Regions from separate parts of the Homo sapiens genome. Here region 1 is linked to region 2. The links come from fine-mapping of genetic effects on plasma protein levels. A gene starts in region 2. The other region holds a variant in brackets. All regions are shown on one strand. Distances are from middle to middle.

The links. PIP is the posterior inclusion probability: the model's chance that the variant is causal. Protein levels are from antibody-based Olink assays in UK Biobank. Linkage for the fine-mapping came from a reference panel and not from the study's own genotypes, which makes the PIPs less certain.
Region 1: its variant is fine-mapped to the plasma level of the SPOCK1 protein (UK Biobank, PIP above 0.99).

What each region holds. Positions count from the first base shown.
Region 1 is chr5:137,554,863-137,571,364 of GRCh38, forward strand. No RefSeq gene overlaps it. Among named protein-coding and RNA genes, the nearest start is that of SPOCK1, 64 kb to the left of the region's middle. The variant C/G (reference allele first, on the strand shown) is at 8,794.
Region 2 is chr5:137,498,652-137,514,239 of GRCh38, forward strand. SPOCK1 (SPARC (osteonectin), cwcv and kazal like domains proteoglycan 1) reads right to left here and starts at 675. Exons shown (of 11, transcript NM_004598.4): 1 at 528-675. RefSeq lists a silencer at 626-845.

The DNA of each region.
Region 1 (16,502 bases), 57 kb after region 2:
CAACTCAAGATAGATCAAAGACTTAAATCTAAGACCTGAAACCATAAAACCACTAGAATAACATCAGAAAAACCCTTCTAGACATTGGCTTAGGCAAATTCATTTTTTAAAGCAACTGAATGTGTAGGAGTTTTGGGTCATTATATATTCTCCATCAACAGACCCTAAAAGTATAATCACTATCATATGGAGCCCTACAATTTTTTAACACTAAAATGGGTACCTCAACACAATAAGCTTAGAAAACAATGATCTTGAAAGGGCTTAAACAGTTGTCACCAAACTCACACATACTACTATGTGGGAAAAAAAATCACAGTTCCACACTGCAGCCTCATTCACTCTTGTTTAAAAAGAAATTTTAAGATACTTGACTAATCCTTTTTCCAAAATTAAAAGTTGTACATTAGGAAGGCAGAAAAACATAAAAGAAATGCTCAATTGATTTAACCTTATAACTTTTTACAATTTCTGTGTATCACAAATTCTCCATAAAAATTAAAACCATAAACTGGAGGAAAGGTATATGAAATAAACATAAGCATAAGGGTTAATAGCCTTAATATGTATATCAGTTTTTTACCTATTTGATTGATCACAGATGCTTAAAAATAATAAAACTTAATAGCATCAATCTGGTGAGAAGGGATTTACACACTCCTGGTTGGAATATTAACTACTACTTTCCTAGAAAACGAATGCCCAAGTGTAACAATATCTTTTTAAGAACTAGCTTTATCAAAATATAATTGGCATATAATAAACTATACATAAGTGTATTATTTGATAAATTCTGATATATATATGTACCCCTATGAAACCATCACCACAATCCAGATAGGAAACATATTCATCACCCAAAATATTCCTTGAGCCCCGTTGTAAACCCTCTCCACCACTTCTTCCCACTCTTCCATCCCTAGACAACGATTGCTATGCTTTCTGTCACTCTAGATTAGTTTGCATTTTTTCAAGCTTTATATAAACGGAATCACACAGTATATTCTCCTTTTTTGTCTGGTTTCTCTCATGCAGCAAAATGATTTTGGAATTCATCTATGTTGTTGCACATAAAAATAGTTGATTGCTCTTTATTGCTGAGTAGTATTCCATTCTATGAATACATTGCAGTTTATTTATCCAATGATGAAATTTGGGTTTCTTCTAATTTTTGTCTATTACAGTAAAGCTGCTATTAGCATTTATGTAAAAGTCTTTCTGTGGACATATATTTCCTCTCTTCTTGTGTTAGTACCTAGGAGTGGGTCATATGGTAAGACGACTTTGGAAGACACTGCCAAACTGTTTTCTAAAGAGGTTATACCATTTTAAACTCTCACAAGCAATGTATGAGAAGAGGAGGGATGCTGCTATCAGCAACAATTGGTATGGTCGATGAAATTGGGCTTAAAAAAAAACAAGCAAAACTCTAGAATGTGATCAATTAATCTCACATCAGAGCATGTATCTTTTAAAAAAATTAAAAATAAGGATAAAATACCCACAAATATTCATCATAAATTTAATTAGTTTTAAAAATTCAAATTGCCTGAATGTTAAATCATGAGAGATGAGGTAAATTAAAATTGTACATCTTATGATAAAACTCTATTCAATCATTTTGTAAAATAGCTCAATAATATGAAATATATATTAATATATATTCAGTATGATTGAATTTTCATACATATGTGTAATGAGGAAGGGAGGAGGGGAGAACTAGATGGAAAAATGCTTATTCTTCATACTTGTTTGTATTTTCTTCTCCATATTTGTTTGTATCTTTCTATTTTCTAGGTAAGTTTGTTTATTACAATCAGAAAAAAAATTTTTTTTTTTTTTGAGATGGAGTTTCTCTCTGTTCCCCAGGCTGGAGTGCAATGGCACGATCTCAGCTCACTGCAACCTCCGCCTCCCAGGTTCAAGCAATTATCTGCCTCAGCCTCCCGAGTAGCTGGGATTACAGGTGCCCACCACCACGCCCGGCTAATTTTTTGTATTTTTAGTAGAGACGGGGTTTCACCATCTTGGTCAGGCTTGAACTCCTGACCTCGTGATACAATCAGAAAATTTTAAACTTTTTTTTTTTTTTTGAGACAGAGTCTCACTCTGTCACCCAGGCTATAGCGCAGTGGTGCGATCTCAGCTCACTGCAACCTCGGCCTCCTGAGTTCAAGAGATTCTCGTGCCTCAGTCCCCCAGGCAGCTGGGACTGCAGGAGTACGCCATCACACCCGGCTAATTTTTGCATTTTTAGTAGAGACAAAGTTTCACCATGTTGGCCAGGCTGGTCTCAAACTCCTGACCTCAAGTGATCTGCCTGCCTCGGCTTCTCAAAGTGCTAGGATTACAGGTGTGAGCCACTGCACTGCACCAACATTTTTTTTTTTTTTTTTTTTTTTTTGAGATGGAGTCTTGCTCTGTCACCCAGGCTGGAGTGCAGTGGAGCAATCTTGGCTCACTGCAAGCTCCGCCTCCTGGGTTCACGCCATTTTCCTGCCTCAGCCTCCCGAGTAGCTGGGACTACAGGCACCCGCCACCACGCCCGGCTAATTTTTTCTTTTTTTTTTTTTTTTTTTTTTTTGGTAGAGACGGGGTTTCACTGTGTTAGCTAGGATGGTCTCGATCTCCTGACCTCGTGATCTGCCCGCCTCAGCCTCCCAAAGTGCTGGGATTACAGGCATGAGCCACCACGCCCAGCCTGCACCAACATTTTTTAAAAGAGTAAAGAAGTAAAAATGAGAGGGCAAGGCATGAGACGTGACTGCCAAATGCAGACTGGCGTGGAAGGAGAGTGAAAATGAGCAGGTGCAGAACTAGAAAAGCCCAGCTCCATGCAACACAAATTTTGAGACGGAGGGAAATACATATATCTTACCACAGGATTAATAAAAATTGTTCCTACTAATATAATCAATACTCTGATCATAAAGGCAAGGAAGTTTATAATACAATCTTAAAATATCTCCATCCAAAAAAAGTTGTTAAAGTAGAAAAGTTTTTTCTGTGAAATAAATAAATTCCTTGACGGCATTAGGTGCATGTAGAACCTATTACCATTAAGTGGTGGCATTTGACACCATAAAGAGGTTTAGGGAAGATGTGGAATCTATTAGGTGTTACAACAGAAGATGGTCATGTGAGCATCCACTGCCACCCAGCAAAGCCCAGGGCCCTGTGGCAATGGGGCATCAGTTCAAAGGTGAGGAGGGTGAGAGCAGGGGGTTCTGCCCAGGAGGACTGGGAGACAGGTGTGAGAGTCCCAGCAGACACTGGGCACCAGGTATGGTGTGACCAAAAAGAGATAGGGGTGGAGATGGCTGATGGATTCAAAAAAAAAAATAGAAAGAATGAATAAGACCTACTATTTGATAGCACAACAGGGTGACTATAGTCAATAATAACTTAATTGCACATTTTTAAATAACCAAAAGAGTATAATTGGATTGTGTGTAACACAAAGGAATGCTTGAGGGGATGGATAGCCCATTCTCCATGATGTGATTATTATGCATTGCATATTTGTATCAAAACATCTTATGTACCCCATAAATATATATACCTAGTATGTACCCGCAAAATTTAAAAATTAAATAATTTTTTTTAAGTTTAAAAAAAAAGAAAACGAAAAGAGAGAGAGAGACTGGGACCTGACAAGCCCATGCCTCATCTCTGGCCTAAAAGTTGAAAAATCTGCCCACCTGGAACCACGTCTTATTCCTTTTTGGGGAAGGTGGGGAGTAATCACAGAAGACAATGGAAAGTGAGAACTAGCCTCATGGGTGGGTGAGAGCAAAAGGTGGATACACTGAGAGAATGAAAGAGGAGACCCAAGAATCTAGCCGCAGGCTCAAAGTTGAGCCCCTGAGTTGTTGGAAATTGGTGACAGTTGTTGAAACAGACTCAGTGGATCTCAGAGTTGACCAGGCGGCTCTGCCCAGGAGGCCTTCTGGAGCTCAAGCATCATGTGGTAGGCTGGGAAATGAACGGCCCCTTCTCAACAGAGGGCTTCTAGACATTTCTATGCACAGAGTCACCTTACAAAGGAACACTCACACCAGAGCAAACTGCGAGGTGATGAGGTCCCAAGAGATGGGTCTTCAGTAGTGGGCTTGAAAAAACTGGAATTCTAATCAAGAACTTTAGTTCTTTTGATTTGCTGGCTTTTCTTTGCTAGGACCCAGCTCTGAGATGCAGATTCTTGCTGGAGAGGGTTGGGGAGGGAGGGAGGGAGGGAGAGAAGGAGGGAGGGGAGAGAGAGAGAGAGAGACAGAGACAGAGAGAGAGACCCAAAGATCTCTCTGATACTGAAAGCTGGGGAAAAAATTATCAGTTGAGTCCACAGACTCTTGAATTGAGTTTCCTTGAATCCAACATTCAGATAGCTACTTTCATTATCCAAAAATTCCCTGGTCTCTCCAGCCTGTAGATGGAAATGAAGGCATGTTGACCTTAAAAACAGATTCCCTACTCTTGCCTTATCCGGTCCTTGGAGATCCTCCATCTCCTAACATTCCCCAAGGAGTGTCTCTTACAGGCTCATAAGTCCATCTATCATCTGTGATCACGATGCAGGATCAGCCATGTCTTCCCTCTGCCTTATCTACATTCTCCCCCACACTCAACAAGAGAGTCTCATTTCTGTTGCTTCTGACAGTACCCATCACAAATACATCAACATATGCCAACATCCACTCCAAAAGTGCCTCTCCTGGTGGGGCACGGTGGCTCACACCAGTAATCTCAGCACTTTGGGAGGCCAAGGTGGTTGGATCATCTGAGGTCAGGAGTTCAAGGCCAGCCTGGCCAACATGGTGAAACCCCATCTCTACTAAAAATACAAAAATTAGCTGGGCATGCTGGCTCACGCCTGTTATCCCAGCTACTCAGGAGGCTGAGGCAGAAGAATCACTTTAACCCAGGAGGTGGAGGTTGCAGTGAGCCGAGATTGTGCCACTGCACTCTAGCCTGGGCAACAGAGTGAGACTCTATCTCAAAAAAAAAAAAAAAAAAAAAAAATGTGCCTCTCCTGACACCTCCAGTGCTTACAGATTCATTCTGCCTTCTATACCCAAGTGAAAAATCCCCTTTCCCTGACTCTGCATCACTCTGTCGTATGGGACAGGGCATCCTTCAGCAACTCCATAACTTATGGGGTCCTTTGCAAAAATGGCAACTTCAGCTTCTCTCCTTAAGCCTTTTCACCATCACATTTAGGGACTGGGCTGGGACACTAGGGCATTCCTTCCATCACCCTTCCTTCTCCCTCTGCTCCAGGTTCTCCCTCTACCAGAAATCTCCTTAAACTAAAACTCATGCAAATAAAGAACTAAAGGGGTTCAAAGTGATTATGTTTCTGAGACCTGTATTTTTGCTAGATTTCCACTAGTCTACCTCTCCTCAAACCCAATAGGAGTAAACTGAATTCTTCCCGCAAACCTCTCCACCACTACCCCCTTTTCTCTTGATCCTCTCTCTCAACTCCACCTCTATTCACCAAGTCCCAACGAGCTTTTCCTCTTTTCTTCTGTCCTCTTCCATCCTCAGCACTGCAAGGCTCACATCGGGACAATGAGACAACCTCTACCTGGGCTCCAATCTTTCTCTCTGTCTCTCTCTGGTCCATGGGACCAACACTCTGTCAGAGCAAGGCTGCTGTCTTAATCCATTTGGGCTGCTGTAGCAAAATACCCTAGACTGAGTAATAGGTAAACAACAGAAATGTATTGCTCACAGTTCCGGAGGCTGGGGAAGTCCAAGATCAAGGTGCCAGCAGATTCGGTGCCTGGTGACGGTTCTTCATTGATGGTATCTTCCATCTGTTCCCACACAGCAGAAAGGGCAACCAAGCTCCCGGCCCTCTTTTATCAGGGCAGTAATTCCATTCATGAGGGCTCCACCCTCATGACTTAATCACCTCCCCAAGGTCTCAGTTCCTAATAACACTACACTGGGAATTAGGTTTCAGCATATGAACTGGGGTGGGGGGCGGGGGGAGGCCACAAACATTTAGACCACAGCAACTGCTAAAGCACATCTCTGGTTGTAGCCCATTACACGCACACACACTCACGCACAGCGATGCTGGACTAGACAGTCACCCATGGAGCAAAGAAAGTCATGCTGCATTACCCCGTAAGCATCAGTAATAGCAGCCATTTCCCATGCCCCTGAATCATGCACTCTAAATATCGTATTTTATCAATCCTCACCCAATTCTGTAAGATAGTAGCTATTGCTCCATTTTATAGATAAGGAAAATGAGGTTCGGGTACTTACTTTGCTTTTCCTTTATAAACAGAGGCTCTAAACATATTTGGAGTCTCAAAACACTGTGAGAATCTAGCAATAGCTATGGACCCTGTGAAGGCCATCTGTGTGCCTCCCACTACTGTGTCCCAGGTTAAGAATCCCAGCTTGACTCTACCTTTCACTGTCCCCAGAAGCAGGCCTCTAGGATGTTAATTTTATTTTCACTTAGTGAGCTTGGAGGTTTTCTTTTCTTTTTACTTTTCAGCACATTCTGCACCCCTGGAATGGGGTCAAGCATCCAGCTCAGAATTCTAAAACATGAGAGAGAGAGAGAGAGAGAGAGAGAGAGGAATAGCCATTATCCCTGACACTGTCCCTCAACTCCCCACAAAAAGCCAATTCCAGTTTCCTGAAATGTGTAAGAGGCATTTTCCCCTGCACAGCCAATGTGCCTTTGAAAGAGATGAGCAGAAGAGAGGCTACAGCTGCATGGAAAGTAACCCACAGGGTCAAGAAACCAAGGACTTCCCTTCAGGAAGATCAGGAATTAATCTGATTGGTGTCAGAAATACTTCCTCATGGCACTAGGATTTAAACTCATGGCACCAAAAGAACAAGGGCCCTCCAGCTATATAATCACCAAAATGCCTCCTGCAGCCCTGGGTTAATAGGCTGTCACTCAGACAGGTTGAGTCAGAAACCATCCACAGCAATGACAAAACAAAGCCTCTTCCTCTCCTTCTCACTCACTCATCCATCCATCTATACATGCAAACATTTATAGGACACCTATTGTATGCCCATGGGTTTAGCTGTGTCCCTGTTTTCAATGAGCTCACAGCATAGAGGGAGAGACAAATGATTAAATGGATAATTATAGTGCCACATGAATGTGGATAAATGTACATTATAAGGGATGGATTAATCATGAAACAGCCACACAATAGTGTCCTATACAGCCATTAAAAAGAATAATATAGTGTCATATTCATATCACATTTCCATTGATATGGAAAGATCTCCACAGTATATTAAATGAGGAAAGAGGGGAGCAGATTGCAAAACAGTATTTACAGTATTTTACTCTCTTTAAAATTGTATTTTATATACACATGAATGCTGGAAAGATGTTCACCAAATTATCTACTGGTTAGCTCTGGGTTGTGGGTTTTTGAGGGACTTTAATTTACTATACTCTTCTTGTCTTTCTGTTTTGTTTATATAATTTAAATTTTTCTAAATGAAATAGCTTTCTATGATAAAAATAAGAGACGTTCACTGCAGAAAATCAATGTGCCAAGTTCAGTAATGCAGACACTTGCAGGTGCACCCTGCCCCCACCCCATCCCAGCACTCACTTGGAGAACAAAATTCTCTAAGTCTCTAAAGGACTGAAAGGTAAATGAAGATGTCTAGAGTTTTCTTCTATTTTCAGTTAGCTGACTATTACGGATTAGAGTTTTCAATGCTAAAGATTTGGGAAAATAAAAAATGATACCAAATGGCCCACAATTACCTTCAATGGCAACAATGTCTTTATTTCTCAGAAGTGAGTTTACCTTGACAACCACAGCAGCTTTCACTGGATTTTTCTTTTTTTTCTTTTTTTTTTTTTGAGATGGAGTCTTGTTCTATGGCCCAGGCTAGCATGCAATGGCACAGTCTAGACTCACTGCAACCTCTGCCTCCTGGGTTCAAGCGATTCTCCTGTGTCAGCCTCCCAAGTAGCTGGGACTACAGGTGCGTGCCACCACACCCGGCTAATTTATGTATTTTTAATAGAGACAGGGTTTCACCATGTTGGCCAGGCTGGTCTCAAATCCCTGACCTCATGATCCGCCCGCCTTGGCCTCCCAAAGTGCTGGGATTACAGGCGTGAACCACCACTCCCAGCCCACTGGATTCTTTAAGAACAGCAAACCACTCACCAGCACTATGCCTGGGCCCTCACGCCATCCCTCCAGACCCTATCTGTAAAACACACAAAAGCGGGTGAAAGAGTGTGAACCTGATTCCAGACTGCTTCTCCTGCTCTCACACTCATACAAGGTTTGGGTGTTAAGTTCATTTATTTACTTAGCAAGTGCCTTGTGAGCACCCCCACCCTTTGTATTTGGCTTATATTAGGAGCGAAGGCACAGGGCGAACAAAACAGCATGCCGCCATCCCTGTCCTTATGGAATTCAGGATCTGGTGGGGATAGGCGACTGAAACAAAGTGACTCTGGAGTCAAACTCTGAGTTCAAGTCCTGGCTCCTGCTTACTAGCTGGGTGGCCTGAGCATGTTAGTTACACTTTCTGGGCTTCTGTTTCCCTGTCTCACAAAGAAGCATAATAAACTCACAAGGCTGTAACAGAGATTCCCTGAGACAATGCATGTGAAATGCTTGGCACAGGGCCTGGCGCAAAGCAGCCCAGCTGAAGGCTAATTAATATTGTCATCAGCACTTACACTTGTAATTAGCTGTTATGAAAGAAGAGAGTCCAGAGGAGGGACTGGGTGCTCACAGCAGGGAAATCATTGAGCATCTCCCAGCACCA[C/G]TGCCCACCTTTCCCAATAACAGTGGTCCAGTAGGAGGAAAGAACAACTTGATCAGACTTGGCACCGTTCCTCTCTCATTAAAATCATAGCCATCAGGAACCCACAAGACTGATGCAATTTCCTGACTACAGGGTTCGACTTGGGTAATACGGAAAGGCATGCAGAGGCAGAATGCTAACACCTCCCATTCTAGGGAAATATATTGCAGGGACCCCACCATGCTGACCTTTTCCACACAGAGTATTTTGATTAACTGGCCACTGATTCCTCCCCTGCAGGTCTGGAAGACTATAAACAGAAGAAGGGGTGAGTGGTTGACCAGTCAAATTTTTGGTTCACTGAAAAGGTTAAGAGAGTGCAATAAAGCACAGTGACTGGAGGAGAGAGGAACCTCATCCCAAGTCACGAGAGGAGGAAGCCAGAAGGCGAAGCTGCCCCACACATTTGGCGCTGAAAGAGGCTGACATCTTTGCTTCTGGTCCTGAGCCAGGCTCAGCCTTTCTGCAGGCCAATTAATTCTAGACACAATATCTGCCCTAAATTCTTCAATGTAATTAGCACCACATGTTATCAACAGGAAGCTGGTACCCGCGGGCACTTGAGATAATTGTTTCAACACTGGCATTTCTCTGCTTACCGTGAAAGGTCACTGCAGCCGATATATCTCTGCTATCCCCCATTCCTTTCGTTAAATGACAAAAAGCCGTCCCTTGTCGTTACAGTTACGTCAATTCATGGGTGCAGGGCTCAGGACATCCATACAAAGGCTTCTTAGCAGTAAGTATGCTCTAAGAGTTTGCAATAATTACTTCCTGTGACTTCTGACATCAGCAGTGTCACACCCCCCTCATATAGGCCGTATTGCCTGACATTGTTATATTGCCTGACATCTTTGGGCTGCTGGGGCGGCTGGGGAACGTCTGCACAAGGGAGCCGCCTCTTTGCTGCCCCAGTTGCAGGAGGCCTTTACAGATGGAGCACATAGAATGACAAACAATGGCTGTTTAGAGCAGTACTGAATGTTTTGCTCTGTCTTGTTACTTGACCTGTGAGTGCAGTGGGCTGAGAAGTACATCTTAGTTTGCTGTGAATAGGACTTAGTGTGCTCAGGATGACTGCACTGGACAATTGCCACCAAGACTACTCAGGACGCCCCCACACATTCTCCAGGAGAGCAAGGAAAGTGGAAATCTTACAAAGTTTCCTCACCTCACCCTGCACCCATGCTGCAGCCACACTGAATCCCTCTTTACATTTTTTTTTTTTGAGACAGTCTTGCTCTGCCACCCAGGTTGGAATGCAGTGGCATAATCTTGGCTCACTGCAACCTCTGCCTCCCAGGTTCAAGCAATTCTTCTGCCTCAGCCTCCCGAGTAGCTGGGATTACAGGCTCCCGCCACCATGCCCGGCTAATTTTTTTGTATTTTTAATAGAGACAGGGTTTCACCATGTTGGTCAGGCTGGTCTCAAACTACTGACCTCAGATAACCCACCTGCCTTGGCCTCCCAAAGTGCTGGGATTACAGGCGTGAGCCTCCGCACCCAGCCTACCCTCACTCTTGCACAAGCCCCATTCTCTCACCTCTAGAACTGTCTGTTCTTCCTTTTTCTCCGGGCACTCTTCTCTCACCCCTCATTTCACCTGGCTAGTGCATACTCATTATTCACCCTAGATAGCATTTCCTCTGGAAGCCTTCCCTGAAGCCCCCTGAACTAGGTAGGGGCCCAAACCCTTCAACTTTGACAATCTTGTTTCATGGTCTCTCTCCCACTAGCAGAAGAGCTGGGTAAGAGCAGGGATCTTGCCCATCTTGTTCATTCTCCTATCTCCCATGCTTGGCAAGACATTCAATAAATATTTTTGGAATGAAGTTTGAACACATGGAGGGCATTCCATGCTGCACTGGCTGAGTAACATGAAATTCAGGGGGATATTAGTCCTCAGGGAGACACAATCAACACATTCTTGATTCCAGAGCAAACAGGGGCAAGAAAAACCATACTGTGACCTGGCTGCCCCAGTGCTAGTTTCCCAGCAGGCAGGAGCATCCTTCCCGGGAAACAGTACCTCTGCGTGGAAAGCTGACTGTACCCACAGGTCACGTAATAAGACAGAGCAAAACATTCAGTGCTGCTCTAGACAGCCAGTGCTTATTTGTCATCTATGTGCTCCATCTGTAAAGGCATCCTGCAGCTGGGGCAGCAAAAAGGGGGCATCTCTTGTGCAGACATTCCCCAGTCACCCCAGCAGCCCAAAGATGTCAGCCAATGGCCACACCAAGTCATGGCTTAGGGAGGCTTTAGTGCCTCCCCCATAATCTCCATCAGTTCCCTGACAAGCCACCCCAAAATCCAAACAAAAACAGTGCTCTTGCTCTGCCTCCCCTCTCCCTCCAAAGAGAGATTCTGGATATCCCACTACCCCCAGGATAAATGCCAAAATCCTTCCTGTGGCCAAGCCCTGCTGTCTCTCCAGCCTCCCACGCACATCCCCAGCCCTCACTCCCAGGGCTCTGGCCACACAGGCTTCTGTCCACCCACACCTCCTGGCTCTGGCCTCTCCTGGTTGGCTCAGGCCTCTGCATCCTTCAAAGTGTTCCCTCCCTCCAGGACACCCACACAGAGGGGCAGATCCCCCAGAGCGCCACACTCCTCTCCCACACAGGCTTTCTCCTGCCATGACTCTACACTAAGTTTGTGCTTACTTGGTTTATTGCTTGCCTCCCCCACTAGACTGTCAATGTGAGGAGGGCAGACCCAAGACTAGGTCTGCTTTGGCTCATTTATCCCCCAGTACTCAAGTGGCATGCAACAAAATTCTGTGGAGAGAAGAAATGCATGAGCTAACCTAGGTCAACATTACACAAACTGCCTCTTAATGAAATGCCAATGAGAGCTTGTAAGTAAAAGTTTGAAAATACAGTGAACTCTTACCTCACAGTATGCATTCGCGTAAGAAAAAAAAGAACTCACCATCCTGCAAGAAAGAAACCTGTTTAATTTTAATGCGATGTTTCCCAGCTTAGCTGAGTATGAAATCCTGTTCTCCTCTCCTTCAACTTCCTAGAGAGTAGTATGCCTTAGAACAGCAGTTTGGGAAACACTATCCTAAATCATGTTTCTGTGTTTAAATGTTCTATTTAAACAAACTGGTAAAGACGCAGTTCTTCAAGATACTCTGAGCCACAGAGCCTTGTGAGGTGGGGCAGGATCCGAGGTGCTCCTGCTTCCTGCCTGCCCGTCCCTGCTCTGCCTTCTGTGGTCTGTGCCAGGATGGCTTTGGGAAATCATGTTGCTACAGACAGAAAGCCTCACTTCCCTAGGGGTTAGGCCAGAACTAAGAACCAGGCGGGAACTTGGACAGGCATGGAGTAGGCATCTTTTCAAGTTCACAGTTCCTTCCCACCACATGCTGGCCACACAAAACAAGAACAGCAATTGGTATCGGCACTTTTCCAGTCATGGTTACTGATGTGATCCTTTTTGCCTCGAACAAAACCTAGTAGGTAATTCAGATATAATTTTTCTTATTTAAAAGATTAGAGGAATAAGACCCATGAGGTTCAAGAAATTTGCTCAAGGTCACTTGGCCCCGGAAGTTGCAGAACTTGAACAAAAGTACGAGAGCTGAGGCTCTTTCTTCTATGCCACAAGGTTACTCTTTCAAACTAAAACTGTCCCTAAAGAGGCAGCTGCCGGCCAAGCAGGTCTGCAAGCGCCGAGAGAACTCCTTATGCTGGCGGGTAATTTGGGCTTATCGCTGTGTGATAAGTTGCCATAACTGGCCTAATGCATCTATGGCAGAGGCTGCCAACTGGTAGCCTCAGGACTGGATCTGATGAGTGTGTTTTATTCAGCCACATAGTGGGGTTGTTTTTTAGTTACCTACATTTAAAATTCAAGAAATTTCACCTTACAATCTGGATGAAAACTCAGAGGCCTCCCCCTACCCTCAGCTCTGTGTCCTTGTGATGACCGTCAGCTGGAGGTGCAGCAGCTTCCCTTTCCAATATTTGCTTACTTACAGGCCCTATGGCCATTAGAATGTTGCTCCCCTGCTTTGTAGATGATGGGCACTTGTTCCCAAGACCACCAGACACAGAGATGTGGCAGAACAGGACAGAGGGATTATAGAGAAAGAGGGAGAAACACCAAGAAGAACATCTTCTGAAGTCAGGGATAAGAACCTCCGCTAAAAATAAAAGCAAGCTTCTGCAACAGAGGGAAATTGTAAACATAAATTTCCTTTAACCAGCATCCAAACATTTTAATATTTATGCCTAGACTTTCCCAGGCAATTTTAATTCACATTACACTCTTCCTACAGAAAAGAAAAAGGAAGACAGGGGGTACAGAATGTGGAAAAAAATACTTAAAATGCCATCATTTAAGTGGAAATGAATCCTTTTCAAAACACTGTGTCCAGAGGAGCTGTTGCCTCGAGAGGTGGTTTGTCAGTTCTGTGCACCACTCAAAATCCATTGAAAGCTATAAAAAGCACCTGCCGTCTTCCACAAACTCCAGATTCATTTTCTCCGGGGTTGGATTCTAATGTGGCCCCTTTGCAGCAGAAGCAGAGCTGGGGGCGACAGCTGAGGAACTGCTCAGGCCTGTGACAGGCGAACTTGTTATATTACATTTCAAAGCCACACACTGTTTTAAAGAGAGGCAAAGCCATCCAGAGATGCAGCATCTCAAACCCAACTTTGTCAGGCCTGGCTGGCAGCAGGGGGGAGAATACTGATGCAGAAATAGCCAAGCACACTTTTCAAGTTCTTCAGAGTTCAATAGGTCACGTTGGTTCTTTCTTTCAGCAAATTCACCTCATATTGGCTGCGGAGCTGGATGGCTGGGTTTTGTATGGGGGATGGGGATTAAGTTCTCTCCATCCCTCATACAAAACTCCCCAACCCCCACACAAAAACCCTCAAGTCAGCCCACTCTCCAAATGCAGGTTTACCATTTTCTCCCTGCAAGGAGCCGTCCAGCATCTCTCCAACCCTCCCCACCCTTGCTTTCCTCCCAACTGCTGGAGTCTTTGGTCTTTTTTTTTTTTTTTTTTTTTTTGAGACGGAGTCTCACTCTGTCACCAGGCTGGAGTGCAGTGGCGCGACTCAACTCACTGAACCTCCACCTCCTGGGTTCAAGCGATTCTCCTGCCTCAGCCTTCCAAGTAGCTGGGATTATAGACACGCGCCACCATGCCCAGCTAATTTTTGTATTTTTAGTAGAGACGGGGTTTCACCATGTTGGCCAGGATGGTCTTGATCTCCTGACCTCGTGATCTGCCTGCCTCGGCCTCCTAAAGTGCTGGGATTACAGGCATGAGCCACCTCACCTGGCCATCTTTGGTCTTTTTAACACATGATCTACTGCCTGTCCTTTTTACATGTGGAGCTTTGTGACTTGCAGCTACACAGGTTGATCTCTGAGGGCAGGGACAAGGCCTCCTGTTTCTCTTTGTAAACACACATGGTGTAAGTGTGCAGTGGGAATAACCATCCCTACGCAGTAGGCAGACTGGACAGGAGGCTCAAGGCCCTAGTGTGGGAAGAAACAGCAGAACTCGGACCTAGGGGACCATGTGGCTGGAAAGACGGCAGCTCAGTGGCCAATGGCAGAGCCTTCCCAAGCCCTTGGCACTGCCTGAGGAGAGGCAGTACTCAAGAATGACTGAGCCCAAGTTTCTGCCAGCCTGGTAGGATAGGGACTCAGATTTACAGAAAATGAGACACAATACACCTCTGAGTTTATGACCTGAAACTCCTATCAGCCTAAAATCCAGCTGAAAGGATGACAGAGGAAACAAAGAAAGGAAGTGGAGATTTCAGCCTCAGTGCAGAGGAGGGAGGCATTGAGAACACACGGGAAGGAGGCTGTGACATAGGCTGCAGGAGCAAGGAGTGGGGCACAGCTGAGTCCCAGATCTGAGCCTGGTGGTACATGTGCTTACAAAACCACAGTGCCTATTCGGACAGAACTTACGTATTGATTTCAGCATGGACCTGGACCCCTATTGTCAGTCCCCCAGGACAAACCACTAAAACCCATCTGGAAGCCCCAAGGGAAGTAGGGTGCCTTCTGAGCAAAGTCTCAGCCTGTATGAGTTCATTTTCACACTGCTATAAAGAGCTGCCTGAGACTGGGTAATTTATAAAGAAAAGAGATTTAATTGACTCACAGTTCCGCATGTCTAGGGAGGCGTCAGGAAACTTACAATCATGGCGGAAGGGAAAGTAGGCACGTCTTACATGGTGGCAGGTGAGAGAGAGCATGTGATGGAGGAACTGTCAAACACTTATAAAACCATCAGGTCTCATGAGAACTCACTCACTATCGCAAGAACAGCATGGGGGAAACCACCCCCATGATCTAATCACCTACCACCAGGTCCCTCCCTTGACACATGGAGGTTACGGGGATTACAATTTGAGATGAGATTTGGGTGGGGACCCAGAACCAAACCATATCACAGCCCCAGGGGAAGATACTTGGGTACAAAACCATGTGGTGTCACACCGCAAGTGGCTGTCTCCCACAAAAGCTCCAGGACGTGAACCAAGCTTCCTAAACCTCCTTCACCAGCAAGCAGGGTGTTTCACACATGGTTGAATGCAGAATGAATGTGTCAATGCATCAGTGACACCCACATCTACCACCCATTCATTAAAGAAATATTTATTCAGCACCAGTTGCCTCATGCCACATGCACTGCACGTGCACATGTTCCAGCACAAGGGACACAGCAGTGAACGAGGCAGACCTGGACAGACATGGTCCCTGCCTTCATGGAACTCGCCCTCTAGTTGAGGGAAAAGGCCACCAAAAACTAACAAATGGATTATTTCAGGTAGGGGCCAGGGCAATTAAAGAAAATTAAAGCAAGATGAGAGAGAAAAAGTTTGGGAAGAGGCTGGGCATGGTGGCTCACACCTGTGATCCCAACACTTTGGGAAGCTAGGAGGAGTTCCAGACCAGCCTGGGTAACATAGTGTTATCTCATTTCTACAAAAAAAAAAAATTTTTTAATTAACCAGGCATGGTGGCATGTACCCTTAGTCTTAGCTACTGAGGAGGCTGAAGTGAGAAGATTGCTTGAGCCCGGGAGTTTGAGGCTGTAGTGAACCAGGGACACACCACTGCACTCCAGCCTGGGCAACAGAGCAAGACCCTGGCTCAAATTTTAAAAAGTTGGAAGAAAAATGTATCTTGGTGGTCAGAAAAGACCACCTGCAGGAAGGGTGGCATGTGAGCAGAGACATTTGTGAAGATCTGGGGGAGGACTATTCCAAGCAGAGGGAAGAGCAGAAATAAAACCCCTAAGGCAGTGGTGGGTATGGCAGGAACAGCAAGGGGGCCAGGGTGGCCCAGGTGGGGAGGGGCTGTAGGAGGTGGCTCACGGTGGCTGGTGGTGCCACTCACTCACCACAAGTGTCCTCACAGCAGGTGCTGCCTGTTACTCTTCTTTTATCCCCAGAACGTAGCCCAGGAGGGATATGCAGAGGAAGGTTGTAGCTTGACTGCTCCCACCCCTCATCTGAGCCTCTAGCACCACAAAGTCCCCACAAATCCTGCTGATAAGAGACAGCCCACAGAGCACCCATCCTTAAATGAGATAAAATGGAGTGTTTTCCAACCTAGAACTTTCTGAACATCCCCATCAGGGCCCAACATTCATGTTTGATATCAGCTCAAAGGAAATTTTCTC
Region 2 (15,588 bases):
GGGACCCCGCGGCGGGCACGGGCAGCGCTCGCGCACCTGGGGCGCCTGTCGCGCCTCTAGACCCAGGGACCCCTCTCACGAATGGGGGACTCATCTACGAACGAGGAGGCTGCGTCACGAATCCGAGGCTGCCGTCCAACTACAGGGGACCCGTCTCGTCTATTCTCCGAGTGCCCCACAGATGCCGCCCTCCTATCAGGGGCTTGGTACCCCTCCCCAGAAGCGGGGAGCCCGGGTCCGCACGCCGCACTCCCACAGACGGTGCGGTGCACACGGCTTTGGGGCAGGAGAGGGGAGAACAGGGCTCCAGCAGCACCCGAGCTCCGGCAAGCGGGGTGGGGGCTGCCAGCAGCTGGGGGTCCCCGGCGACAGCTAAGGGAAAGGTCTCCCTTGAGCGCCCTGAGGTCTCGGGGGTAAGAAAGGCGCGCGGAGGTAACCCCAGGCCCTGACCCTGCCAGCCCCCTAGGCGGCCGCGGGGAGGTCCCAACTACTCCAAGTTGGGGCGCGGGGTTCCTCTGGGCACGTACCTTGGGGGCCGGCCCGGGTCCCCTAGTCCGAGTTGCTCGAGCTCCCGCGGCACGGTCGCCGGGAAGGCTGATCGCCGGCTCGCGCCCCTGCGCTCCTGCCACACGCCGCCGCCGAGCGTCTGGCCGCTTTGTGAGCCCGCAGCGATGTGCTCTGCTCGCTCGCTGGCTCGGGCGCGGCGTCCGCGGGCGGAGGAGGCCGAGCGCGCGAGCCAAGGCTCTGGCGCCCCCTGGTGGCCGCGCGCTGCCTGCCCGACAGCCCGGCCGCCCCAGCCCGGAACGTGGTCATTCACATCTTTTTTTTTTTTTTTTTTTTTTTTAATTTACTTCTATTTTTTTTTTTAATTATACTTTAAGTTTTAGGGTACATGTGCACATTGTGCAGGTTAGTTACATATGTATACATGTGCCATGCTGGTGCGCTGCACCCACTAACTCGTCATCTAGCATTAGGTATATCTCCCAATGCTATCCCTCCCCACTCCCCCCACCCCACCACAGTCCCCAGAGTGTGATATTCCCCTTCCTGTGTCCATGTGATCTCATTGTTCAATTCCCACCTATGAGTGAGAATATGCGGTGTTTGGTTTTTTGTTCTTGCGATAGTTTACTGAGAATGATGGTTTCCAATTTCATCCACGTCCCTACAAAGGACATGAACTCATCCTTTTTTATGGCTGCATAGTATTCCATGGTGTATATGTGCCACATTTTCTTAATCCAGTCTATCATTGATGGACATTTGGGTTGGTTCCAAGTCTTTGCTATTGTGAATAATGCCGCAATACACATACGTGTGCATGTGGCTTTATAGCAGCATGATTTATAGTCCTTTGGGTATATACCCAGTAATGGGATGGCTGGGTCAAATGGTATTTCTAGTTCTAGATCCCTGAGGAATCGCCACACTGACTTCCACAATGGTTGAACTAGTTTACAGTCCCACCAACAGTGTAAAAGTGTTCCTATTTCTCCACATCCTCTCCAGCACCTGTTGTTTCCTGACTTTTTAATGATTGCCATTCTAACTGGTGTGAGATGATATCTCATAGTGGTTTTGATTTGCATTGCTCTGATGGCCAGTGATGATGAGCATTTTTTCATGTATTTTTTGGCTGCATAAATGTCTTCTTTTGAGAAGTGTCTGTTCATGTCCTTCGCCCACTTTTTGATGGGGTTGTTTGTTTTTTTCTTGTAAATTTGTTTGAGTTCATTGTAGATTCTGGATATTAGCCCTTTGTCAGATGAGTAGGTTGCGAAAATTTTCTCCCATGTTGTAGGTTGCCTGTTCACTCTGATGGTAGTTTCTTTTGCTGTGCAGAAGCTCTTTAGTTTAATTAGATCCCATTTGTCAATTTTGGCTTTTGTTGCCATTGCTTTTGGTGTTTTGGACATGAAGTCCTTGCCCACGCCTATGTCCTGGGTCATTCACATCTTAATGCAGGGCTAAAATCAGCTTTCAGGCCCAGGCTGGTGCGAGACAGAAGAGGGGACTGAGGATATGAGGCCAAGACGCAGGCCAGCATGGAGGCATTCTCAAAAGGAAGGCCGTCGGGTTATCTAGATCAAAATCACCTGGGTGGAGAGAGAAGCGAACTTCCTAAAAATGATTCCTGCCCCACCGCCCCACTTGCTGAGTCAGCATTCCTTAGGAAAGCTTCCAAGTCTGCACTTTTAATGAGCTCCCGAGGCGTTTTTTATGCATGGCAAAGTTTGATAACCACCGTCCTGCCATTCCCTGGATAAGTGAATATCTGCACTGCCCATCCCAAGTCATGCACCCACCTGCATCTCTGCACTCCCATGCCCTATGCCATGCTTACCACTGTCCTGCCCCTTGAGAACCGGCCCCAGCACTAACCTGTTGAGTTCCCCTAGATGGGAGGGAGGGGAGAGAGGAAAAACAGATCAGGCTACAGGGACAGAACACTGAGAAGCAGAAGTCTGGTCCTGCCCCATCCCCCACCCCGTTTCCAAATACCAGCAATGTTTGGTGAAATAGGGCTGGAAGGGACTTAATGTCTTCCCCTGCCTGTATACAAGTGATACTGGCCTGTCACCTTTCTCTGTACAACTACACCCCATTCCCCAGACACCTGAGCGCTCTTTCAGAACAAGTCTGACCATCCCATCACCCCTCTCCCCTCAACACAAAATTCTTCACAATGCTTTCCTGATAAAGACCAATCTCCTGGCTGGAGCCCCCAGGCCCCGCACATCTGGACCCCGCCTCTCACCCCACTCTCTCCTCCTCTGACCTTCTGGACGGGCTGGCCCTGACCCCAGTGGAAATGGGCTCCCTCCACTCCTGGGTATTCACTTCTGCCTGGGCTGCTGTCCATACCCAGTCCCAGCACAAGTCTCATTAATTCTGCTCTCTGCTTATTCATCCTCACTTCTTCAGAGACTCTTGCTACACCTGTGGACCAGGCCAGCACCTGCAGTGATGCTGTCTTTGAGAACACAGTGCTTCTCTGGCTGTAAGCTCAACTGATATCACTTACTCTATGTCTGCCTCCCCACCTGGCTAGAGCTCCTGAGGGCAGAGGCTATCTTTGTCTTGTTCACCACTTCTCCCAGTGCCCAGAGTTGACACATTGTTAGTGCTCAAAAAAATTTGATAAATGAATGAATGATTTAATGAATGAATGCCACCCAACCATGTCTGGAACAACAACACATCTCAGCCAGCATGCCAACAATAATGTATGGTGTGATCAATAATAAGTTGCGCTACAAATAATTTGGTTACATATAATAGTTGAATGTGTGGAAGTCAGCAGATCTGTGGTTTTCCCAACATTACTCTGCCTGATTTGCATTCCTAGAAACTTTCTCAAAAGGGAGAAAAAGGAATGGAGTCACAGCTACTATGTTGGGGACTGCACATCATCCACGGTTTATTTTATCATGGAATGCTGTGGGTGGGTGCATCAGAGTGGGAGAGAGGTTTAGAAATGATGAAGAGACTGTTTCTTATGTTCATAGAAACCCAAGTAAGCAGCACTTCCCCATTTATCTGCCCAGTGTGACAGCAAGATCTCTCCAAGGAGTTGTCCCTAAATGTCACTTTTGCCTCCTCACCTCCAACTCATTCTTCAACCCACTCCAATCTGCCTTTCATCCTCACTAACTGAAATGACTTGTCACCATCAGCAGCCTCCTCCAAGTCACCAGATCCAGTGGGTACCCTCGATCCTCCCCAGTGTGGCCTCTGAGCAGTTTCTTTTGGCTCCCGTGGCTCCAACCCTCCTGGCTTTCCTGCTCCCCCCATCATTCCTGCTGACATTCCAGTGCTTCTTAGGGCTCAGACCTATCCCTCTTCTCTCCCCCAAAACCCTTTCCCCAGGTGCCCAAGTCCAGTCCTATGCTGAGATCCTCCAGGTACATTTCCAGCCCAGAAATTCCAATGACTTCTGACTGTACCTCCAGCTTCATACTTTACATCTCCTCAATGCCCCACGGGCACGTCAGATCTGTGACCAGGCCAAAACAGAAGTCTGGATGTCCTCCATGCCTCTGTGTTCTCCTTTCATCCCTGTTAGAGTGAATGTATCCGCATCCACATGGCTGCTTAAGTCAGAACCCCACAAGTCATCTCCAGTTCATCCATCTCCTCGCCCCTCACCTCCCATCCATCAGCAAAGGGGGTCCATCCCACTTTCGAACACCCCCTGGAGCCACCCACTTCACCCCACTTCCACAGATACTCCTGAGTCCACAAGACCATCACTTCTCACGTGAAGAACGACGGTGCTTCTTGGCTGGTTTCCTTCTTTCCTTTCCCTTGCAACCCATTATCCACTCAGGTGAGAGCAATCTTTTTTTAAGAGAGCCTTCTCTTTTTAAAATTTTTGTGGGTACATAGTGGGTGTTTGTATTTAGGGGGTACATGAGATGTTTGATACAGGCATGCAATGCATAATGATCACATCACGTAGAATTGGATATCCATCCCCTCAAGTGTTTATCCTTTGTGTTACAAACCATCCAATTACATTCTTTTAGTTATTTTTAAATGTACAATTAACTTATTGACTATAGTCACCCTGTTGTGCTATCAAATACTATGTCTTATTCATTCTTTCTGTTTTTTTTGGACCCATTAACCATCCCCACCCTCCCTGCAACCCTCCACTACCCTTCCTGGCCTCTGGTAACCATCCTTCTACTCTCTATGTCCATAAGTTCAATTATTTTGATTTTTAGATCCCACAAATAAATAAGAACATGTGACATTCGTCTTTCCATACCTGGCTTATTTCACTTGACATAATGATATCCAGTTCCATCCATGTTGTTGCAAATGACAGGATCTCATTCTTTTTATGGCTGAATAGTACTCCATTGTATATATGTAGCAATCTTTTTAAAATAGAAATCACTCCCTTAAATAAAACCTTTCAATAGCTTGCCATGACAGTAAAACAAAAATTCACATTCCCTCCCATGACTCACAAAGCTTTGCACCATCTGGTCCCTTACCTCTGCCCTTCATTCCCTAGGTTCTAGCCAGATTTCTTCTCATGGTTCTGCAAACTTAGCAAGCTTGGGCCCCACAGGTCCTCTCTTCTGGCCAGGCTCTCTGCCCACAGTGTTCCTTTCCCTGCTTTTCACAGGGCAACTCCTTCTTAGCTGTCAGGTCTCACTCAAATGTCACCACCTCATTGAAGCCTTCCCTGACCACACCTTCTAAGATAGACACTTCCCTCCCAGCCACATCAGCATTCTCTCTTGTTGTATCTGGTTGCTCAGTCGTTCAAGAGTGTTTTACTCCTTTGTTTATTATCTCTCTCTTCCTCAATTTGAATATTAATTCCAAGAGGGCAAACACTGTCTTTTTCACTCCTGTATCCCTGAGCTAATCTCAGAACCTGGCATTCAGTGGGCCCTCAACAAATATTTATCCAGTGGTTCAATGAATGAAGCAAATTCCATAACCCTTGATGCATCCTGAAGTATGAAAGCCCTGTCTAGGGCCATTTCCTTTGTCCTCCTTAAATTCCTTGTTCTGCAGATCCAAGTTCCACTTTCCTCGGGGACCTGTCCCCAGTTTAATCAGAGAGCATCTGCTGCTAGCCATGCTCCAATTTCACAACCGGAATCTTCCCCATAACCATCCCCTGCATGGGAAGGGTGACCAAAGGAGCAGGGGCAGGTGTGGCCATGCTGGATCTGGCCTGAGCCAAGGAAGGACATAACCTTGGAGCAGGGGCAAGGAGGCTGGGAGCTGGAGACCTGCCATCAGCTCAGCCAGCACTCGAGGGGAGAAATGGCAGATTTATTCAGCCGCAGGAAGCACCCAGGACCAAAATCAATACTGAGCCTTGGGGCTGTATTTCTGCTTTTCATTGGCTTATGCACAACTATAATAACTCCTTGTTTTAACATAGTTCTTATTTCTACGAGCCCCACATGTTTTATTTTCAGTTTAATGGATCCTCAAACCTGTGCTACTGGTAGTCAGAAGTAGACATAACTATCACCATTTTATGCTGAGGCTAGGGGAGCCCAGAAAGGCAGATAAATTGGTGAAGGTCACAGAGAGAGAAAGAAAGATGGACCTACTTGCAGAAAGTTCTAGGTGTACTCCCTGACCCCTGTTCATGATGCTATGCTGGCAAGAATCAAATCACCCACTAGGTTCCATCCAATAAAAGAGGTGCCTATAATACCTTATCATCAGCACAGATTTATTTTTAGCTGCAAACTCATATATCTACCTGCTACATGGCATCTCCATTGTGCTGTCTCATTGGCACTCTCTGAATTCAGTGTGTCCAAAATTGAACATCTGAGCTGCATCCCCCCTGTTAAACCTACCCTCTTTCCTGTGTCCCCATGTTGGGGAAACCACTTCCCACCCCACCAAGACCCTAGTGTCACTCTGCCCTCCTTCTCAGCCCCCACTTTCAGTGACTCACTCATCTGTCAATCTCTCTTTCACTCCTTTCAGCTCCACCCACTCCCCACTGCTGTACTTCTAGAATCTACTTCCCACCACATGTCACCTGCACACCACAGAGCCCTTATAAGGGTCTCCCTCTCTCAGTTCACCCATGGTTATTCATTATCCACACAGGAGCCAAAGTGGTCCTCTCTGAAGGTAAATATGATCACTTTTCTCTACTTACTTCCCTTCCTGTGCCCTCAGGACAAAGGCCAGGCACTGCACCATGACTCCTGGTACATCCTGCTAAGCCCAGGGGCCTCTAGATCCTTCTGTCCTGGATGTTCCTGCCCCTCCTGCTCTGGTCACCAGCATCCTGCCCCCTCCACTCAGGCCCTTTCCTGCAGGGCTCGCTCCTGCTGAGACGCTCTCCTCCCTGTCCCCTCTTCTCCTGGAGACAGCCCCACTCACCCTTCTGGCCACAGCTTCTGCAAGTCCTCAGAAAAGTCACCCCTGACCCTCACAACTTTGCACTCATCACAACTGCACAATTGCTTGATGTCATTCTCCCACCTGACATTCAGCGGCACAAAGGCAGGGTCCGGGTTTGTGTCTGTCTCATTTGCTGCTGAACCCATAGTGCTGAAAAAAGGGACATAAGTGCACAATAAATATTGAGTGAATTAATAAATACTCATAGCTCAATTGCATTTGTTTCCTTCCCTTCTTTGAAGCAAAGAAGCTCCAAGGTTTATGTTGAATATTTTAACCCCCAAACACCCCTTGGATAGAAAGTAGGGACTGTGAGGGAATGACATGACCTTCCCACTCCCAGGCTCTTCTGCTGTGGTTTGAAGGTGATGTTGGAATAATTCCTTATCCCAAGAAGAGGAGTAATGAAACAGATGCATTTCTTGACACCACTGAAAGCAGCTCACCCAGCAGGGCCTGTAACTTTTGCGAACACGTCGATTTCACCCATTGATTATATGTATTCAGTAGAGCCAGGCTCACTCCATCTCCCTGCGTCCCTCACAGCCGTTTCCCCCACCCGCCCCCACCCCCACCAACACACACACACACACACACACACACACACACACACATGCCTTCTTGCTTTCTTCCCCCTATGCAGAGCCATGGTGTATGGACAACCCACTTTAGGAGGAAATGATTTTAAGCAAATGAATACCTCACAACAATATGAAAGTAAACACCAGAAAACTCTAATGGCAAAGCAACTACTCAGAAACAGAGAAGAGGATGCCCAAGTCCTGACTACAGAGGAAAAAATCATGAGGGCCACAAAACTACCAACAACATGGGCTGACATGCATGAGCACTTACAGCATGTCAGACACCACAGTCCTGTGTGTTATCTGATGTAATCCTCCTGATAATCCCCCATGAAATAGGCGCTGTGAGAAGCCTCATGTTAAAAACAAAAGCCTGAGTCCCAGAGTTGAGAGATCCTTTATCCCAGATCACTCATTGAGTAAATGGAAGAAGAGCCAGGGACTACTTGACGTCAAAGCTCCCACTATGACCCACTACAGCACTCAGGCACAGCGCTGCCACAGCCCATGGAACCCACAGCATTTCCCTTGATGTCCAAGACTTACGCACTTCATAGTCTGATGGAAAATATGTACACACCTGATCTCTGTTGGCTGAATAACAAGCCCTCTGAGACTTGAAGACAATTTTCTTTTCCTTGCTCAGAAAGGCAATCCAGGTTCTTTTTCCTTTTCTTATTAGCTTTGTATTCATTTACAAAGAGAAATGCAACCGCATGTTGGCATCAGGCTCCACGCAGGCTACAAAGCTCTGGGATAGGCTGGCAGGGCCCTCCTTTCCTCTCAGGGTCAGTGCCAGATGGCTGCCTTTAGAAGGACTGCACAGTGTGGGTGCAATGCGGGCTCATGCCTTGGGGAATAGAAGATGGTGACTGCTGAGTCAACAGAGAGTGAGCCCACAGGACGAGGGTCCCGAAAGAGGCTCCAGCTCACCGAGGATCCCAGGACTGGGAGCAAAATGGAGTTCCTTGAGGAACAAGCGCTCCAAACAGCTTTCAAGCTGGGATGGAAACCAGAGAGCAAAACTGGAGCTGGAGGAGTCCCACACATCCAGAAGGGCCCGGGAAACACAACGAAATGAACCCAACTCGTTTGCAGCACCCCCTGAGAAGCCCCATCTTACTGGAACTCAAAAGGAGTTCCAAAACCACCCACTGAGCTAGCATGAACCAAAACCATACTTCCTGTGAGTATTTCCTAACAAAACTTCCAAAATGGAATACAGATGAGTCAGCAAGGTTCTGCACACTAAATTGAACATGCTCAAGCACCCAGAAATGAACAATACTAGAAACGCATCAGTATTATTATCATTATTATTATTATTTATGCTAAAAACTTTTAACGTGAAATGTACTCCCTTAACAGATTTTTAAGTGTAAAATGCTTAAATATGGTCATTTATGGGCCCAATGTTGTACAGATTTCTAGAATTTATTCATCTTGCATAATTGAAATGTTATACCTGTTGATTAGCAACTTCCAACTCCCCCTTCCACCTGCCCCTTTGCAACTGCCATTCCACTCTCTGCTTCCATGAGTTTGACTATTTTAGATAGCTCATATAAGAATCATGCAGTGTTTGTACTTCTGTGACTAGCTCAGTATCCCCCAGGTTCATCCATATTGTCACATATTGCAGGATTTCCTTCTTTTTAAAGGCTGGATAATATTCCATCATATATATATATATATATATATATATATATATATATATATATATATATGTCACATTTTCTTTATCTATTTACTTATCCATGAACATTAGGTTATTTCCACATCTTGTGAATAAAGCTTCAATGAACACAGGAAGGCTAATATCTCTTTGAGATCCTGATTTCAGTTCTCTTGGATAAACACTCAGAAGTGGAATGCTGGATCATATGGTAGTTCTATTTTTAGTTTTCTGAGAAATCTCTATGCTGTTTTCCATAGCGGCTACACCATTTTGCATTCCCACCAACAGTGTACAAGGGTTTCAGTTTCTCCTCATCCTCACCAACGCTTGTCTTTTTTGTTTTTTTATAATAGCCATTTTGACAGGTGTGGGATGATATCTCCTTGTGATTTTCATTTGCATTTCCCTGATGACTGGTGATATTGAGCATCTTTTCATACATCTGTTGGACATTTGTAGGCCTTCTTTAGAGAAATGTCTGTTCAAGCAAAGATATGGAATCAACCTGAGTGTTCACCAATAGACGATTAAAGAAAATGTGGTGCAAACACACACACACAATGGAATACTCTTCAGCCATAAAAAGGAATAAAATCATGTCTTTTGAAGCAACATGGATGGAAATGGAGGCCATGATCTTAAGTGAAACAACTCAAAAGCAGAAAGTCAAGAACTGCATATTCTCACTTACGGTTGGGAGATAAACAGTGTGTACACATGGACATAGAGTGTGGAACAATAGCCACTGGAGATTTAGAAGAGTGGGAGGAGCATAAGGGATGAGAAATTATTTAATGGGTACAAGGTACACTAATCAGGTGACGGTTACACTAAAAGCCCAGACTTCACCACTATACAATATATACATGAAATAAAACTGTACTTGTACCCCTTAAATTGATAGGATTTCATAATTCTATACCATGTAATTTCTCCTTAAAGTCTCACACATGCAGCTCACACAAGCAGGTTAGTTCACCCCTTTATAGACTGAGAAACTGAGGCTCAGAGAAGAAATTTTAACCATTTACACACTCATCTCCACTAGATTTTTCTTAAGGTCAAAGCATTGGAAGAATTCCCCTGGCTGCACACATATTTGCATATAATTTACAGATGCCTCCAACTATGAAAGACATCCTTAGGCAATTTGCAAGTTAAATTTGTATCATTTCACTCAAGGCATGAAGTGAAAAGGGAATTATCAAGCCAGGGGGAACTGCAGGGGAGACAGCAGGGGTCCCCAGAAATTCTCCCAACATCTTCAGTGGGAGTACACTAAATTCAAGAATTTAGCATCTGCTCAACAAAGGAATATTATGCAGGGCATTAAAATGATGGCTATAAAATCCACGAAGCAACATGAAACATAGAGTGAAAGAAAAGCAAGTTACAGAATTGGGTGCACAGAATGACTTTAGCAGCGGGGAAGGGAAGAGGAAAAGAACCGCACCAGGGACAAGCTGTGACTATGTTAGGGCACAACCGTGGGGAATGTTCTTTTCCTTCTTCCAAAGGGTTCCTAGCATAGATGACCTCTACACGTTTTTCACCCTCTCTGTGCCTCAGTTTCCTTTTTTGTAAAGTGGTAGTCATAATAGCACATATCTATCAGGGTTTTGAGAAGATTAGATCATATACACAGAGTGCTTTGCACCAAATATGACATATACTAAGTGCATGATTAATGTTGGATTGGCAGTAGTGTCTGTTATTCTGTCAGCTCTTAGCCCTCACTTCTGACAAAGATGGTGGAGCAAGAACTCTGTTGGGAGTCATGAGGCCTGGCCCAATCAATGCCAGATTTTCCTGGATGTTCCTAGGACTCAGTTTCTTCTCTTGTGAAATGAAGGGACAGGGCCATGGTACTTCTACCCTGTCGTTGCACTCTGTGAAAAGCTGTATGGTGCCCTTTACATCTACAATTGAAAGTTCCCTGTACTTTCAATCAATTACAAAAAAAAAAAAAAAAAAAAAAGGCTCAAAGAAATTAATGAGGGGCCAGGCTCACGCCTGTAATCCCAACACTTTGGGAGGCTGAGGTGTGCAGATCGCATAAGTTCAGGAGTTCAAGAGCAGCCTGGCCAACATGGTGAAACTTTGTCTCTACTAAAAATACAAAAAATTAGCCCATGCCTGTAGTCTCAGCTACTAGGGAGGCTGAGGCAGGAGAGCTGCTTGAACTCAATTGTAGTGAGCCGAGATCACACCACTGCACTCCAGCCTGGGTGACAGAGTGAGACTCTGTCTCAAAAAAAAAAAGAAAAGAAAAGAAAAAGAAATTAATGAGGAAAATACATCAATGGGAAAATGGGCAAAAGTCTTGAATACACAATTCACCAAAGAACTACAAATAACCAAACTGCCAAGTAACCAAAGTAAAACACATTAAGATAATAAGTCACCGATAAAATTTGCAGATACTTCTAAAAATCATTATTCTCTGGGTTGGCAAAAATGAAAAAAAGTTGCTTTCTTTGTGGGATCATAAACTGGTACAGTCCTCTTAGAGGCCAAGGTTCTTGATATTTATGTTAAGAGCCACAAAATGTTTGTGACCAGTGACTTTGTAACTTCACCCATAAGAATTTAACCTGAAAAGATAATTAAGAATGTTTACAAAGGCTTAGCAACAATTATGTTCTTCTCTGAATTATTTATAATAGTGAAAGCTCAGGAATAACCTAAATGTCTAGAATCAGATTGGTTCAATAAACTATATTCACATAATAGAACATCGTGTGGCCATTAGAAATCTTATTATTTGAGAATATTTAAGAGATGGGAAGTATGACATTAATTGAATAAAAATTCCCAATCAGCACCATCTCTCTAGAAGCAGAGCCTGAAACAAGGATTCTTGAGGAAGTGATTGATTGAGAGCACACTCCAAGAAGGAGAGCAAGGGAAGCAGACAAGTTCAGGGGAAGAAAGCCAAGCAAAGGTGTGGTCTCTGCTAGAGACCACTTCCATCGTGTCCCCAGGGAGCTCAGGAACACAGAGTCATACCCCTTCTTGGTGCCCTTTGAGGGGCTGGTCTTTTGTTTCCCCATGGCATTGGCTGTTGGCTGCCTGGGTGGAGGGGTATGAGGATGAGCAGGGGTGCTCTTTCTTCCACCCCTTGATTCTCTGACTCATGTATTCTGTCTACTAGGGACACAGCACCATCTAATGTCTATTGGTTTAAGGTGTCTATTCAGCCTAAAGGATGTTGCCCCATCCTTGCAGAATATCATCTCTAAACTAGTACCTCAGCTATACCTTCAACAGGCTGTTCCAATCCTTAATCAGGCCAGCAACTTCCGTATGGTATAGTTTTTAAAAGGATCAGTGGATCTCATGAATGTTCTCTCTGCCATAACTTCTTTGCCATAAAAGGCAATGTAATGTGGTATCCCATGCCAGTAGATCAGACACTGATTTGGTCCCTAGCATAGTGGTGCTGGCTGAGACACTGTGGGCAGGAAAGGCAAATCTGACCCCTGAATATGTATCAATCCCAGTCAGAATGAAACATTGCCCATTCCAAGTTGGAAGAGGTCTGATACACAAAGGCTCAGCAATGGTCGGTTTCTGGCAGGTGGAACATTGGGCTGTGGCAGTAGCTAAATTAGCCTTAGGGTAAGGAAACCCATATTGTTGGGACCATACATAGTTTTTATCTCTGCAACCATGGCCACTCCTTTCATCAAACCATGGTGCAAGAAATATAGATGGTATATATGTACAGATTAGTAAAATACATATATTTCCTAGCTCTACGGAGAGGGTCTAGAACAAATGCAACCCAGTATCTACGAGCATACCTAGTGCCTAGGTCTTGATTTCAAAGCACTGTTCTATTCTAAGCACTATTCAATTAAAAGAACTAGGGTTCCTTGAAAAGTGCTTGATTTCAGTGCTAGAGCAGGAAAAATATGAGATAAAGCTGGAACACTTTGTGGTGATAGAAAGTCAGAAAATGCTCACAAAGGATGTGGATTTGTCAAAAGAATAAGGTCTAGATAAATAAACTGTGGTATGTCCAAACAATGGAATATTATTCAGTGCTGAAAAGCAATGAACTATCAAGCTGTGAAGAGACATGGAGGAAGCTTAAACGCATATTACTAAGCAAAAGAAGCCAGGCTGAAACAAGGCTACAGACTGCACGACATTTCAACTATATGATACCCTGGAAAAGGCAAATCTACAGAAACAGTAAACAGATCAGTGATGTCCAGGAAATAGGGGGTGGAGAGGTAAGAATAAGCAGAGCACAGAGCATTTTAGGGCAGAGAAACTACTTTGTATGATACTATAATGAGGGATACATGTCATTAGACTTTGTCTAAACCCATAGAATGTACTGCACCCACTGAAACACAATGCCTATGGATTTTAGTTGATGTCAATGTAGATTCATCAATTGTAACAAATGTACCACTCTGGTAGGGGATGTCGATAATAGGGGAGTCTGTGCATGTGGGGGGGACCAGGGAGTAGGTGGGAAGTATCAATGCCTTCTGCTCAATGTTGCTGTTAACCTAAAACTGCTCTAAATAAGTAAAGTCTATTGAATAAATAAATAATAGAGTCCAAGCTGAAGGAGCTCCTAATGGTCAGAGCTAGAAAAATTTTGGAAAAAAAATAATGATAGTATCGGATTTAACCTACAGAATAAATAAACATACAAATAGGGAAGAAAGGACAGTTCCTCCTTACAGTAGACTTCTAATTAATAAACGTAGAAGGAAAAAGGGAAATAGAAAATCATCATTAGGCAAACACTACAGTAATTGTTGCAGACAAGATCTATCAATGGATGGTAAAATTAGCAGGTGACGGTTTGAAGAAACGTAAGATTTGCATGGTCTCAAAGTATTTCCCCCAAGATATTTGTTAATTATAAAAGGAAGGATAGTAACTTTATTGTGAAGAAACCTTGCAGAAACCACCTTAACCAAGGGATGAACATCAAAATCACCAATAATAAGACATGCTGACATCATGAACCTCTTGATACCATTCACAGAGGATACTTCCTTGGCGTTCCTGCCAAAAATGCATAGCTCATTCCAAGCATGAGAAAACATCAGACAAACCCAAACTGGAGGCATTCCGCAAAATAACTGATCAGTATTCTTCAAAAGTGTCAAGATCATAAAAAATAAGACAAACTGAGAAACAGTTGAAAATTGGAGGAGACTAAAGTGAAATAACAACTAAATGTGGGATTATGGAACAGAAAAGGAGCATTGGTAGAAAATGGGTGAAATTCAAATAAAGTCTGTAGTTTATAGTGTCGTACCAGTGTTAGTTTCTGGCTTTGTACTATGGTTATATATGATGTTAACATTAAGCTAAGCTGAGTGAGGGATATAAGGAAACTACACTATTTGTGCAACTATTACATAAGTCTAAAATTAGTTCAAAATGAAAATTTTTTAATCCAAATAATAAAATACACTTCACATTTTGTAAACCAAGGGAAAAAGAAGAAAGAAAGTATAGACCCAGATAATGCAAACTCTTTTTTATGTTTCCTAAGCCCAAGCAAGACAAATAACTCAGGTAGATAAATAAAAAATCATGTCCACTCCCTAAACCAAACAGAAACTGTATTTAGAGTCTCCACATGCTGTGTTCTTCCATTAGCATGGATAATTGGAAATTGACTGCCTTTAGAAATGATGCCGTTTTTCTCTCTGAGTATAACACAAAATAAATTCCCAGGGCAATGGCCTATGTTATTGAATCCAACAGTAATTAAGTTAATGTATCCTATCTTGTGTGTGGAAGTGTAATTCAGGAGGTACAAATCTTTTATTGAACTCAAATTCAATAGTCATATACAATCCCCCTACTTGTGGTGTGTACAAAGGTTGTAGGAAAATTACAAAAGGTGATACATTATATTTTTATTCTTATGAAGACTGGGTTTATTCACCTGACACAAGCCATTCATGGGGCACCCTTTCATTTGCACAAAGGCAAATGTTCAGATGAGTAAATATCAGCACATAATAAATGGAGCAGAGACCTGAGGTTTTTGCCTGCCCAGTATTCTTTACTTTTTCTTCCACTAAACATGCTCTGATTTTCCTGTGAGGAGCCCCCTCCTGCCCTCCCTCAGCCCATATGATGCAGGAAGGCAGGTGCCTCCCAAGCTGGACAAATGACCCCAGCCTGCCCAACAAGCATATGATTCTCCTGGCCACAGTCATTGGTTCAGGATGGGCACATGACCCAAGTCAGGCCAGTGTGGCTCAATTCTAGGGCTTTCATTGGAATTAGTAGGAAATAGGTGTGTTTTCACTGATGATGCTAAGATGACAGCCAGGAGTCAAAGATGGCCATCCTGCCCTCCTTGGAGGAGATGCCAAACAAGGCCAACAGAGAGAAAGATCAGAGCTGAGGGGGAAGGTAAGCAGCCAGGTA